Homo sapiens: one gene and its partners. The protein of the gene in region 3 interacts with the protein of the main gene of each other region in a pairwise test. Each region holds a gene or a part of one and is shown on either strand. Other genes may lie near its edges.

Region 1 (3,122 bases), on a different chromosome or scaffold from region 3:
TGCCTGTAATCCCAGCACTTTGGGAACCCAAGGCAAGAGGATAGCTTGAGCCCAGGAGTTTGAGACCAGCCTGCGCAGCATATTGAGACCCCATCTCTATTTAAAAATTCTAGTCCAGGCAGGGTGTGGTGGTTCATGCCTGTAATCCCAGCACTTTGGGAGGCTGAGGCAGGGAGATCATGAGGTCAGGAGTTCGAGACCATCCTGACTAACACAGTGAAACCCCGTCTCTACTAAAAATACAAAAAATTAGCCGGGCGTGGTAGCAGGTGCCTGTAGTCCCAGCTACTCGGGAGGCTGAGGGAGGAGAATCACTTGAACCCGGGAGGTGGAGGTTGCAGTGAGCCGAGATTGCGCCACTGTACCCCAGCCTGGGCGACAGAGCGAGACTCTGTCTCAAAAAAAAAAAAAAAATTCCAGTCCAGCTGCTTGACCCAGACCTGCCTGTGAAACTGCTATCTGGCCCCAGTATGAGTGAGGGCGCTAATAGTAAAATACTAATAGCTACCATTTTCTGAGTATTTATTATCTGCCAGGTGCTTTACAAGTATCATCACATTTAAGCCTGACAACAAACTTAGGAGGTAGGAAGTGGTAGTATCTCATTTAATTAGATGGGAAAACAGGCTTAGGGATTTGCCCAAGATCACTCAGCCAGTAAGTGCAGGAGCCAGGATTCAAACCTTACAGCTTGAGCTGCTCCATACACCATAGCCAGTTACGCAGTCATTCTGAGCTCCAGGAGGTTCACTGGGAGGTGCCTTGTGAGGGGAGATTGTTGGAGGTGCAGGGTTGTGAGCCATCTGTAGAGGAGCAGTCTCCCCCAAACCCCGCCCCACTGCCGGTCAGGAAGGAATACAAGGCTGGCTCCCTTCAGTCCCCGCAGTCCCCAGCCTTGCCAGGGAAAAGGGCAGGGAGAGGGGTATGGGCAGAGACAGGTGGGCCTTGTTGGTGCCCTTTACTCTGTCCTCACCAGAGCCCAGCTGGATAGACTAGGGCATTGGGGGATTCTGGGAAGGAAATAGAAGCCATGCCCATACCCTATTTGGGTTGCCCTGGTTTCGGAGTGCTGACTGTCTCTCAGGGGGTGGACCCAAGTCTAGCCTGGGCCTGAGAAGGTGGCAGCCGCAGTGGGCCAAGCCAAGAAGGAAGGAAGAGGCCCAGGCACCCCCTGTGGACGCATTCCACCTGTGTGGCCCCCTGCTGCCCCGTGGCTGACAGCCCAGGCAATCCTCAGATGTTGGGCCAGAGGAAACCTGGGCCTGAGTGGCAGGAAGGGGGCTGAGAAAGAGGAGTATCTTCTCTACACCATAGCCCCCAGCCCAGGAGTTCCAGCTCTAAAGACCCTGGCCCCTGGTGGCCTCATGCCCTGGCCTGGAGCGCAAGCTGGCTGTTCTCCCATTGCGCAGAGGCTTGATGTATGGAGAGTCAGGCCTCCAAGCTGGGGGCATCTGCTGGTGCCTGGAGTCTGAACTTCAAGCCAGAGCAGCGCTTGTTGTCAAGAATTTCGCACTGGGGGTGGATGAGAAAAGGAGGACTTCTCCTTCAGCTTGAGCCAGGGCAGGCCCTGGCGACTGCCAGCACTGGAGCCTTGTGGGAGAGTGGGTTGGTGGATTCCTTTGTGTGTCCCTGTAACTTCCCCGGGCTCATCCACAGCTGTGAGAACATCTCCTTCCTATGGGTCCTGGTGGTTCCTCTCCACTACCCCAGGATCCCAGCCCTTAGAGAGCAGCCTTCATGATGGAGGAGAGCAGGGGTGGGAGCTCTGACTTTGGGGCTAGAGACTGGAATCCGGGGCAGCAGAAAGGTCTGGGAACCCCACTTCCCTACCGCTCCACTCCCTAGGCTCCTGTTCCAGAGGCAGCTGTGTGGATGACCTCATCCCACAAACATGCTTTGTTCCTGAGAAAATGGAAAGTGTCTGAGGTTTGGTCGGGGGCTGGGTGTCTCCAGCAGCAGCTCTCAGGGCTCCCCCTTGTCCTACTCCCCACCCAAGATGGGGCCTGATTGGGGAGAAAATGTCTTCAGTGGCTCTTGCTCTCTCTCCTTTCAGCTCCCTAGTCCCAAACCCTGAGAAATCGGAAAAGGTGGGAGAGACCTTCTCTCCCAGAGGCAGTAGGAGGGAAATCATGACCCCAGGGGATGGAAAGATCCTGGGGTTTTGCCAGATGTTAGCAGGAGGTGGCAGGGGGTACACTGCACTCCCAGTCTGTCTCCAGTTCCCCTCTGCCTCCCCCGACACTTCATTTTCCTTTTTTCTCCCCATTGCTGGCAAAACCTGACATCTGGCCATCTGTGCCGCCACAGCTGCTGCAGATGTTACAGGCCAAGGCTGTCCAAGCTGGTGTGACACAGCGGGGGTGGGGGGATGAGGGCAGAGGGTCTAGCTAGGGAAGACTGGCTGTGTCCAGCTTGCAGGATTTCCTTCCTGCTTGAACCTAAGCTGAGCCTCTGAAGTTCCCATTGCTTGGCTGATTCCCCGGGAGGGAAGGCCCAACCTCTCACACTGGCCTCTTCTACCATTCATTAGTCCAGCACCTCTCTAGCATTCCACTGTTTTCTGGATCAGGAGGGGCAGGCACAGCCCATTCCCGTCTCTAAGTTCTGTACTCCAGAGCTCTGGTTAAGGGTTCCTTTATCCATATTCCTAAAGTCCCTTCCTGGGAGTCAGGAGAGGGTGGGAGTACTGCTCATAAGGAGTAGAGTGGGGTGGCTCCCTGCCCCTGCTTCTCCCACGCTGGGGACAGTCGGGACAGTGGAGGCTAGACGCTGGCTGGGACAGGAAATGAGTCACTGACCCAGGAAAAGCCCCCTCCCCCTAGATCTGCTAGGGCCTAGATAAGAAAACAACTTCTGCTTCCTGGTTTTTTTCCTGACCTCTTCCTACCCCGAGTTAAATACAGAAAGAAACATGTGGGATTCCTGGTTTCCCAGAAGCACCCCTTCCCCATCCCCACCTACTCTGAACTGGCATTTCCTATGCCGGGTCTCTTGGCTGTGTTTTGAATGCAGAGGCCTCTTTGCCAGGAGCCAAGCCACAGCCTCTCTGTGTGACCCCAGTTCCACCTTGTGCTCCTAACAGGGTTCTCTCCCCTTGCCACCATGAGCGAGTCATTTGACTG
Region 2 (3,079 bases), on a different chromosome or scaffold from region 3:
TGTAGTGTTTAATACAATTCAGTTCGTAGTTAAGGGCACAAGACAACATTTAACAAAAATAATCACATCAATTGACCTAGAAATCAAATGCAAATAGATATGAATACAATCTCCAAAATCTGTCTTTTAAGTGAACATTAACCATTTATTCAAAGTTATACAAGAATTTGACGGATTAAAGTCTTCTGTGACATAAAGCCATTTCAAATAGTTTCATGTCTCAGCTGAGCAGGAGGAGAGGGGGTGAAAGAATAAGTGAGTAGGCCCCGTTGGGCAGCTAGACAGTAAAAACAGACTCAACAGCAGCCGCCCCCAGCCTGCTGTCCTCCCTGATTGCCTGCATGTGTTGCATTGGTAGCAGCATGCTGAGGGCCAATTTTAATGCCATTTGCCTGAAATAAAAGAGAACAGAACAATAAATATGACCAGACAATATAGTTTAACTAATTCTTAAAAAACTCATTTAATTCTTTATGATACAATTTTATCAAACAACTGAGAAAAATACAGCAAGTAGATTTTAGCAACAATTAAAACAATATCTCCTAAGGGATGTTCCTTCCTTTTAAAAACACTGTGGAAATGTTTCTGAAAATAATTCTTTATCATACCAGGTACGGGGTAAACAGTTATTGGATAATGCTGCTTTTCAGGAAATTCTCATAATGCAGAAATCATTTAAAATAATTATTGCAAGTAATCTTTAAAGCATAAAAATACCCAAAGCCCATGCTGCTTTAATACAACGTAAAATCTTTTCTCTAGACAGTGTTTCTGTTCCATGTTGAATCAGCTGTACAGGCTAAGGGCATATGAGTGTTCTGTGTCATCAATAATTTCTATGATCCCCAAAGACATGGCAGCTTGCCAAGAACCCACACACAGAGTAGTTCTTTCATTCATCAAACTCACACTTATGTCTTAACCCTCACTCCCTCAAGTGGATTTTACCTAAAAATACAACACTTTGAGAAAAGTAATACAGTAGCTTCAGAAATTAAGCTCTTAAGGAAACTTTACGTCACAGTAAATCTCAGATTTATAGTGCTTGGCAGTTGTTCTGCAACAGTAGTAGCCTTGGGGTTTCTGGCACTAGCTCAGTATTGACAGCAGCTGATGTGGTTTCTTTTCGCTCTTTTGACTCCTCTTTAATAAAAAGCATGCCCTATGGCTCATTGATTTTGCCCCCTCTGGGCTGGTAGCAACTTCTTGAGGAGTCAAGGAGTCAGACTTGGCATTAGGCCAAATAAATAGCACGGCCTGTTGGCTCCCAACAGCACATTACAATCAAAGCTGCATAAGGCACAGTAAAGCAGTCAGCTACTATATGAAACCAGACAGAAACAATGAATGTGCCCTTTTAGATAGAGGCCCAATTACTGTTCAATTTATATGGCATTAGTCTCTGAATGGTGTCACCTTTAAACTAACTCAAGAAGTACCGTCATATAAGCCTAGAAGATAGGATTTAGAAACTATATTACTCCAAATTAAACAATGAAAAAATCATGTACTTTTTGGAAACCTTAGGTAAACTGCTGTTTGTCTGAGCAGAGACTACTGAAGTAATAGAGAGCCTCATTTATGTATAGGATGAGAGAGACATACATAATGGCTTCCTAACACAATGCTTTTCTAACTGCAACTGGGGAGAAACCAGGGCTTTTCTTTCAGAAGCCAGAAATCTTAATACAGAATGGCAAAAATATTTATGTAAGAATAAGTAGGCTACATCCACATAAACATTTTGAAATAAATACAGATAAATGCAGAGTGGGGATGTGGGTCAAGTGATGATCTTTGGTGAACACTCTGAATTAGATGCTTCAAAGCTTTACATTTTATCCTAATCATGTTGACCAAAACAGGATCAAAATAACATTACAAAAAACCCTATGCCAAATGCCAATTTTATATATATATATATGAATTTAGTCTCCTGAAAACATGCTATGCTATATTGGGAGTAATTTCCAAATTTGGTATTTCCCTCTTTCCTGCCAGATAACAGAGAGAGCATCTTGCATTAGTACATAGTACATGCATTTATATACCAGAACATTATTCCCAAAGCAGATGACACCATATGGTCATGTGGATAAAAGTGGATTTTCTTTTCTCTTTGGGGGATTTATATTATTTTGCATTGCTTGCAATGAATGGATAGGGCCACTTACTTTAATCCATTTCCATAGACAAAGTGTTGCTCTACTAGAACATAAATATTTAACTACTATACCACATATACCAATTTTTCAGTTGGATGACTGTAAACTAATGGTGTTAACTGATTATCATGATTGATTTTAGGAATTAAAAAAATTATAAAATAATGAATTATAAAATAAAAAATATAAAATAGTAATCAAAAGTGAACTCTAAATTAATATTGACCAACAATATTTATATGTATATACCTCATTATTAATGTCAAAGACTCCTTCTTGAATTTTTTCATAAATTTCTTTTGCTGTATTAATAAATGCCTGAAATATAGAGAAATTGGTTCATATTATATAAAACCAAAGCAGTAAAATAACATTATATATGCTCTATAGAATATCATAACATTCAACATATGAAAGTCAATCGACGTAATACATATTAATAAAGAACAAAGATATTAATAACATATTAATAAAGAACAATCGATGTAATACATTATATTAATAAACAAGCCCTCATGATCATCAATAGACATAGAAAAAGCATTTGACAAAATCCAACATTTCATGATAAAAACACTCAAGTCGAAATAGAAGGGAACTCCTCAACCTGATCTAAAGAATGGCATCTAAGAAAAACTACATCTAACATCATATTCGAAGATGAAGGCTGAAAGCCTTTCCCCTAAGATTAAGAACAAAGGATGTACGCACATGCTAATTAGCATTACAAACAGCATTATTCACAACAGCCAACAAGTGCAAACTACAGAAATGTTCAGTCAATAAAAAACAAAATTTGAGATATTCAATTAGTAGAATATTATTTGGCCATAAAAAGGAATGAAGTACTGATTCATGCTACAATGTGGATGAACCTTGAAAACACTGTGCTAAATGAAAGAAGGCAGACA
Region 3 (3,936 bases):
TGCAAAGCAGTTAATTAAGATTTAAGAAAGGAAATCAAGAATGAAGAGACTGGGAAAATTAAGCCCTTTCTGGAAAGTATGATTAAACTCAGAATTTGTTTCTCAACACTACCATTTACACAGTGCCTACTATGTTCCAGATATTATACATGTATGGTCTCAAGGTGACCATTTAAAGAAACAATCTACTGAAACTCACAGTTAATGTGTGGCAATGCTGTGATTCAAACCTGGAGAGAGAGAGGAGAGAGAGAGAGAGTCTGTGTGTGTGTATTCCTGGGTTCTCATTTTATATTTTGGAAAACAGTTTTAGAATAATTCTCCTAATGTAGGATCATATCTGAGAGTAATCTTCAACATTTTATTCTGTCATCTATTAATTTATTTAAAAAATATAAAGTTAAGGGAAAGTTAAAGATAGTTTTCAGAGCCTGATCATAAATTGCCATTAGTTTTATTGCTACCCTTCCTGTCAATAGAGCATATGTTATTAGAGCAGATAATTTGAGTTGATGGATTTTATTATGGTGAATCACATTGTTCCCCTCCACAGTCTTAGGTGAGATGTCCACCTCTGCACCATGTGTAGTACTGGGCTTTGAGGTTATTACTGCAGAGTCAATCCAGCTAGGTAGAGACCCTCTGGCTTCCATCCCATTCACGCATGTGGCCTCATCCTGCAGAGTTGAGATAACTGACTCCCAATGCTGAGTAGCAGAGAGTCAGCCTTTGAGTAGCAGAGAGATACTGTCAATGCAACAGCCTTCTCAGTATCTCTCTGCTCCTGTAGCCACCACATTCATACTGCTCTCTAGGGAGAGGCCAGTAGCACTTACTGATATGCTTGAAGTACCCTTTTAGGACAAGAATGTGCATGCAGCCCTTGCTATAACAAGATTAAGACATGGAAGCACCCACTAATAGCCATGCTGGCTATACTTCCTCCTGGACCTCTGAAGGCTGCTTTTGCCAGTGCTGTGTTTCTCTCCTGAGTCTGCAGACTTGGTTGCAGCCACATCCATGGTACCTGTGGTGGTGCTTACTGTCATCACTACTGCTGTTGCTACCCTGCCCCTTCATCAGGCACTATAGGTTTTATGACTGCAGGGGTGTGTGAACTCTTGAACGTAGTATATGTGGGAGGTATGTTGGATTCATATCTCTATTGTATAATCACAATAGGTGGACCCAAACATTTCAGCATTCATGTGAAGTCTACTGATTCTGAATTGCTCCTTCTCTTCACAAAACTTCATGGCATATCCCTAGGGAGAGAACAAATAAGCAAAGACAGTGAGACCAGCAAGATCTCCTTTCTCTTCCTATAGGTAAACAACAAAAAGAAATTATTGCACAAGTACACAAACATGTTGTGTTGCCACCAATGTATATAAGTGGCAATTGCAGGGAGACACGTCCTACAACATATCAGCCTGCCTAGGTCATAGTATGTGTTTCAGAATAGACTGGTCAGGATGCTTTGGACAGCATTACAACATTGATATAAAATGAACAGCTGTGGATATAAAATGAAGAGTTGCTGACAGCTAAGAAATCTCTGAAATTCAGGCTTGGAGAACCCTGGAGAAGCACTAGGAACCTCCTCAATGTACCATGGCCTCCAAATGGAAGCTCATTTGGCCTTCAGACCTTCCAAATGCAATGCATTTCCCAGGTGAGCTGCAGCACCAAAGGCTTTACAGGACCTGTACCTGCTCTCCCCCAAAGCATCCAGGCCCCATCTAGTCTCTGCATAGACTCACCACTGGGCTCCTCTGCACTTCCTCCAACACAGATGAGTCCAATGTGTTCCCAGCTAGGATAGCCCTGGTATCACTGTAAGCCTCCACTGGTGGTCTCAGGATGTAAACAAGGTTTTCCCAGTGAACAAAAAGGTCTTCACTTGCATCCGATGGAGGACACAGCTGAAGATAAAAAGAGCGGCCCGTGGCAAGCTTCAGGTGGAGCTGTTTTTTTACGCTGTTGTGGATGGTTATTTTCACAAACATCAAGGGAAGCAGCCTGGTTAGTTCTAAGATCTCTGCAGGCGGACTTTCTCTTTTCTGGGTGGCAGGACCACACCTGGCATTGTCACAGACAGCAGCTGGTCGGGCCAGCAGCATGACATCAGGTAGTGTGAGGCAGGGGCTGGTGCGAACGATGCCCATTGTTACCATTCGGGCACGGTTGTGCACGTCAATCACTTCTCCTCTTTTGCTGATCTGGATAAAGTCGCTCTCAAACATGGGTGCATACCTGAATATAGTATACTCGCCTTTGTACAGTTGCCGCTGCAGCTTCCCCATGGAGGTGTTAAACATGCCCATTGCGGGGCTGCTTTGGGCCGTGTAATACGGTAGCATACAGCAGTCCTCCATGTCTTCCTTTAAATCAAGACAGTTCCCAGCAGCTGCTCCACACCTTCCTTAACATGCTTTAGCGGGCATCCTGTTTCCTTGGCTACTCTGGCAGGTGGGCCAGCAGTCGTGTTCTGCAGGCTTTCTTTTTTGTCCCCAAGTGACTGAGAACAGGGAGGGTGGGGTATTGATTACCAACCGCTCAATGCCAGAGACAGTCAGTCCCCTGGATCCAGACTGTGCCCTGCTTAGTGCATGGAGCTGTCAGGAGCACAGGTGTTGGGGCCCTCGTGGATGTCCGGGCACACAGGTGTCAGTGCTCATTCGGGAGGGACCTCCATTTGAGCCTGATATTCCACTTCACAACAGCCTTTGCTCTTTGATTCCACAACCTTAACTGGCAATCCCACTGCTCTTCTTCCCAACCTGAACCATCCACTGCTGCTAAACCACCCCGCAGGACCACTTTTATCCTCCCCTACCCATTGTGACCTGCCCCATCACACACCCCTTTGTCTCTGTCACCCAGTAGTCCCTGCCTCAGAGCAGGGGCACCGCCCTCTCCACCCCACCCTCAGCCCCACCGCCCTCCACAGCTCAGCAGACCACTACCCCGCCACCAACCTACCATCTAGGGACCTTAATGCATTCTGGCAAATTGCTTTCAAAAGGGTTAGAGGTAAATTTTCTGTGCAAGGCAAGAGTTTAATATACATTCTCTGTATACTCATTTATCCAGCTCCTCTAGTTGTAGACATTTATTTTAAAGAGAGAATTGGATAAATTGGTAAACAGATTGGTACAGGATGTTTATCAATGTTTGTTGTAGAGTAAAAAATTATAAACAGCATTAGTGTCTTACAATAGGGGATTGCTTAAATAAATTATGGAGCTTCTGTGACGGGACAGTCTGCAGCCCTAAAAATGATTACGTAGTTTTCCTATTTATTGACATGAAAAGATATCCCTGACCTTTTTTTTTCTTAAAGAATAAGAGAAAAACTGATTTCAAACTCATAGTATAGGTGAGATTCAATTTATGTAAGACCACGTGTATGTGTTTGTGGATATGGAATTATGTTCAGTGAAATGTTTAAAGTGCTTAGGTATAATTTTCATTTTCTTTTTAACTTCTATTTTTATTAGGAAATTTATTTCTGTTACCAGGGGAAATAACTATTTTATTGGCAATGTATTTTTTTTTTTCTGTTTCTATAGCCATGATAAATTTTATGTTTTGACTCACCCTCAAACTGTTGATGCAATTTTTGAGTTTTACCTAGACATTCATACCCTGGCTATGGAATGAAAAGAGCCTTAAACATCACATTTATGCTCTATTCTTTACCATCAGATTGTATTGAGAAAAAAAAAAGCTGTAAAGAATTTTGCTAGGTATTGCAAATATTTTCAATTCAATAAGATTATAATATCTTTATTGAAATGACAGTACACATGATAACCCATGTGAACACAAACACACACACACACACAGAGCCATAGCCATAGTTGAGTCTTTTTTTTTTTTTTTTTTTTTTTTTTTGAGATGGAGTCTCACTCTGTCACCCGGGCTGGAATC
Region 4 (3,500 bases), on a different chromosome or scaffold from region 3:
TGGTCACAAACTCCTGAGCTCACGCAATCTGCCTGCCTTGGCCTCCCAAAACGCTAGGATTACAGGCATGAGCCACCGCGCTCGGCCAAGACATCCTTTCTTTACCAATTTCTTATAGGAGAAGAGAATTCTGAATACAAGGACAAATAATGGTGTAATCTCTAAAGAGCTTTCCCCACTGTTTTCCAAATAGTACCTCTTCAACATTGCAGGCTGTTTTGGCTGAAGTTTCCATGAATATAAGTCCATGCTCCCTAGCAAAGGCCTCTCCTTCTTCTCTCTTCACATCCCTGCGGGACTCTAGGTCACTGCAAGAGATTAATTAAGGAGAAAATTTAAAAAAAAGATCCAAGTGAAAGAGGAAAGTCTATTTCTAAAAGAATTCCGTCGTGGTTTCAACTGCCAGTTATTTCATAAAGAATGTAGATCCTACATGATACTCTTATACAGAGTTACTGATTTTTGTAGCATCTTGGAAAATATTCTTTAGTTTTGGGACAGCTGCTGCATAGTTGAAGATAATACCTCACTCTATTACAGAGAAAATGGCTTATCAAGGGTTAGGCAAGCCCCCATAGTTACACAAAGCTTATGCTCTATTGCTTGTTTTTCCAATGAGATCAAGGAGAGCAAAGTATAGATGAGGAAAAAAAAAAACTTGGCTGGGCACAGTGGCTCATGCCTGTAATCCCAGCTCTTTGGGATGCCGAGGCAGGTGGATCACGAGTTCAGGAGTTCAAGACCAGCCTGGCCAAGATGGTGAAATCCCGTCTCTACTAAAAATACAAAAATTAGCTGAGTATGGTGGCAGGTGCCTGTAATCCCAGCTACTCGGGAGGCTGAGGCAAGAGAATTGCTTGAACATGGGAGGCGGAAGTTGCAGTAAACTGAGATCGCGCCATTGCACTCCAGCCTCAGCGACAGAGCAAGACTGTCTCTTGGGCGGGGAAGAAAAAAAGGAAAACTCTAGTTACTAGAAAGCAGAAAAGTCATAAGATGTCCCATCCAGCAGTGATGAGCATCTTCCTTTTTTACTGGAATCAAGCCACAAGAAGAGAATGAGCCAGGAATAAGGAAAACACAGTTGTCTTAAGTCTCACTGGTTTCGTTACTAGTGCATATAAAAGCAGCTTGCCACCAGGGAATTCAGAGACAGTGATATGGATAAAATTAGGTGAAAAAAAAGATAAGAGCTAAGGACTGAAAAAGGGAATAAAAATGGCAACAAAAGACCTTATGAAAAACAGGATAAAAGGCTGCAGAGCTGGGCGTGGTGGCTCATGCCTATAATCCCAGCACTGTGGGAGGCTGAGGCAGGAGGATTACTTGAGCCCAGGAGTTTAAGAACAGCCTGCACAATACAGTGAGACCCTGTCTCTACAAAAATTTAAAAATCAGCAGAGCGTGGTGACACATGCCTGTAGTCCCAGCTACGTGAGAGGCTGAGGTGAGAGGATCTCTTGAGCCCTGGAAACAGGTTGCCGTGAGCTGAGCACGTTACTGTACTCCAGCCTGGGCAACAGCACGAGACCTTGTCGCAAAAAAAAAACAAAACCAAAAAAACAAACTGAAGAATAAGGCAAGGTTGGGCTGTTTGTGATTCGTATTTTTCAATTTGAAAATTTTCATTTGGGAGGTTTCCAGTTTTCCAACTCCTTGGAAAAAAAGTGTAAGACCATTAAAGAACAACAAATCTACAATATTTTAATTTATTATACCATCAGCTGTGTGAAGACCAGGGAAGATCTAAATGTCAACCCTCCCAAATTTGTACCTCTAGCCCAGATGCTTGACTAAGCACCAGATTTGTACATTTGTGAATTCTTCATTTCCACACTGATACATAAAACGGACTTCAAACTTAACACATCAAAATGGAACTTCTTTTCCCCTAGCCTGTGTTTGCTGCAGGCTTCTGTATCTCAGTAAATGGCATAAGCCAAAAACCAAAGTGTTATTATTGATACCCTTTGCTCCCTACTCCAAATATCTAATCCATTCCAAAGTGAAGTACTTCCAATATGTACCTTAAAATTATCCTTTCTTTCTCTTTCCAGGGTCACTTCCTAGACCAAGCTACCATTCTTTCTCATGTGGACTATTGCAACTGGGATACTACTTCAGTCCTTGTTCTCCTCCAGAGTGATCTTTTAAAATCTGATCAAGCCACTTCTCTACTTAAAACTTTAAAATGCTTCAGGTGTATTTATTTATTATTATTTTTAATCCCCCATCTCCCAAGCTTCAATTTCCATGTATTTAGAATAAAATCCAAAACCCTTACTCAGGCCTCTAAGGTGCTATAAAATCTGGTCCCTACCTACTTTTCCAACCTCATCTTGCACTATTCCCTCTTGATTTAGTCCAATCACACTAGGTTTCTTTCAATAAACGTGTCAAGCTTCTTCCAAGTTCAAGGTGTTTGTATAGTTTGTTCCCCCCAAGTAATACCCTTTTAAAAAAATCTTTGCCCAGCAGGCTCTTGCCCATCCTTCAGATCCCAGCTTAATATCACTCCTAATCAAAAGTAGGTACCCTGTTATTCTTTCGTAGCACCCTTTTTCCTCCATTGCATTTATCACAATTTACAATTTGATACAAATAATTTTATATTTAACATCTATGCCCCCACTAGACTGTAAGCTGCACAAGAGCAGGGGGACGACTTTTTTCCACCTTGCAAACTCAGAATCTGGCACAGTCGTTTTCAATACATTGACTGATACACTAAAAATAATTAGCAGGATGGGTGTGGTGGCTCACGCCTGTAATCCCAGCACTTTGGGAGGCCGAGGCAGGCGGATCGCCTGAGGTCAGGAGTTCAAGACCAGCCTGATCAACATGGAGAAACCCCGTCTATACTAAAAATACAAAAAAATTAACTGGGCTTGGTGGCACATGCCTGTAATCCCAGCTACTCGGGAGACTGAGGCAGGAGAATCGCTTGAACCCAGGAGGTGGAGGTTGCAGTAAGACGAGATCATGCCATTGTGCTCTAGCCTGGGTGACAAGAGTGAAACTCCATCTCATAACAAACAAATGAAAACAAACAAACAAACAAAAAACCAATTAGCCTGTGGCCACAGTTCTCAAATAGTACACTCTGGGCACTACTACAAACTCACAAGGGTGCCATGGGATACCTCAAACTTTTGAGAAAAACACAGTAACACTCAACACAAGGATACTTACTACATGAATTACAAGCTTAAGACAGTTGCAATGTCAATATCAGACCATGATAAAATTCGTTCAATATCTTCATATCTCTGAGAAGCTGTTTCTGGCAGTTGCTGTTATAAAAAAGCAAGCACTACACAAAAATCAATATGAAATGGGAAATGAGAGTAGCAGTGTGCAATCGTGATTCCAAGGTTTGAGAAGCTATGCAGTGCCCAACAGACACATAGAGGTCTTTAGTAAGTAACTGTTGCTATTTAAGAATGAAATAATTTTTTTTTTTTTGAGACAAAGTCTCACTCTGTCGCCCTGGCTGGAGT

What was found.
Region 1: the proteins of GARIN6 (region 3) and FHL3 interact in binary tests that used the Homo sapiens proteins (3 or more experiments, as listed by UniProt).
Region 2: the proteins of GARIN6 (region 3) and RAB2A interact in binary tests that used the Homo sapiens proteins (3 or more experiments, as listed by UniProt).
Region 4: the proteins of GARIN6 (region 3) and RAB2B interact in binary tests that used the Homo sapiens proteins (3 or more experiments, as listed by UniProt).

What each region holds. Positions count from the first base shown.
Region 1 is NC_000001.11:37,999,393-38,002,514, reverse strand, and holds part of FHL3 (four and a half LIM domains protein 3), read left to right. Parts: intron 1-3,082; 5' UTR 3,083-3,102; coding exon 3,103-3,122. UniProt on the Homo sapiens protein: Recruited by SOX15 to FOXK1 promoters where it acts as a transcriptional coactivator of FOXK1.
Region 2 is NC_000008.11:60,617,987-60,621,065, reverse strand, and holds part of RAB2A (ras-related protein Rab-2A), read right to left. Parts: intron 2,487-3,079; coding exon 2,418-2,486; intron 393-2,417; coding exon 297-392; 3' UTR 1-296.
Region 3 is NC_000012.12:99,646,617-99,650,552, reverse strand, and holds GARIN6 (Golgi-associated RAB2 interactor protein 6), read right to left. Parts: upstream 2,801-3,936; 5' UTR 2,379-2,800; coding exon 1,764-2,378; intron 1,266-1,763; coding exon 1,155-1,265; 3' UTR 439-1,154; downstream 1-438.
Region 4 is NC_000014.9:21,463,460-21,466,959, forward strand, and holds part of RAB2B (ras-related protein Rab-2B), read right to left. Parts: intron 2,412-3,500; exon of another isoform or gene 2,058-2,411; intron 309-2,057; coding exon 197-308; intron 1-196. UniProt on the Homo sapiens protein: The small GTPases Rab are key regulators of intracellular membrane trafficking, from the formation of transport vesicles to their fusion with membranes. Rabs cycle between active GTP-bound and inactive GDP-bound states.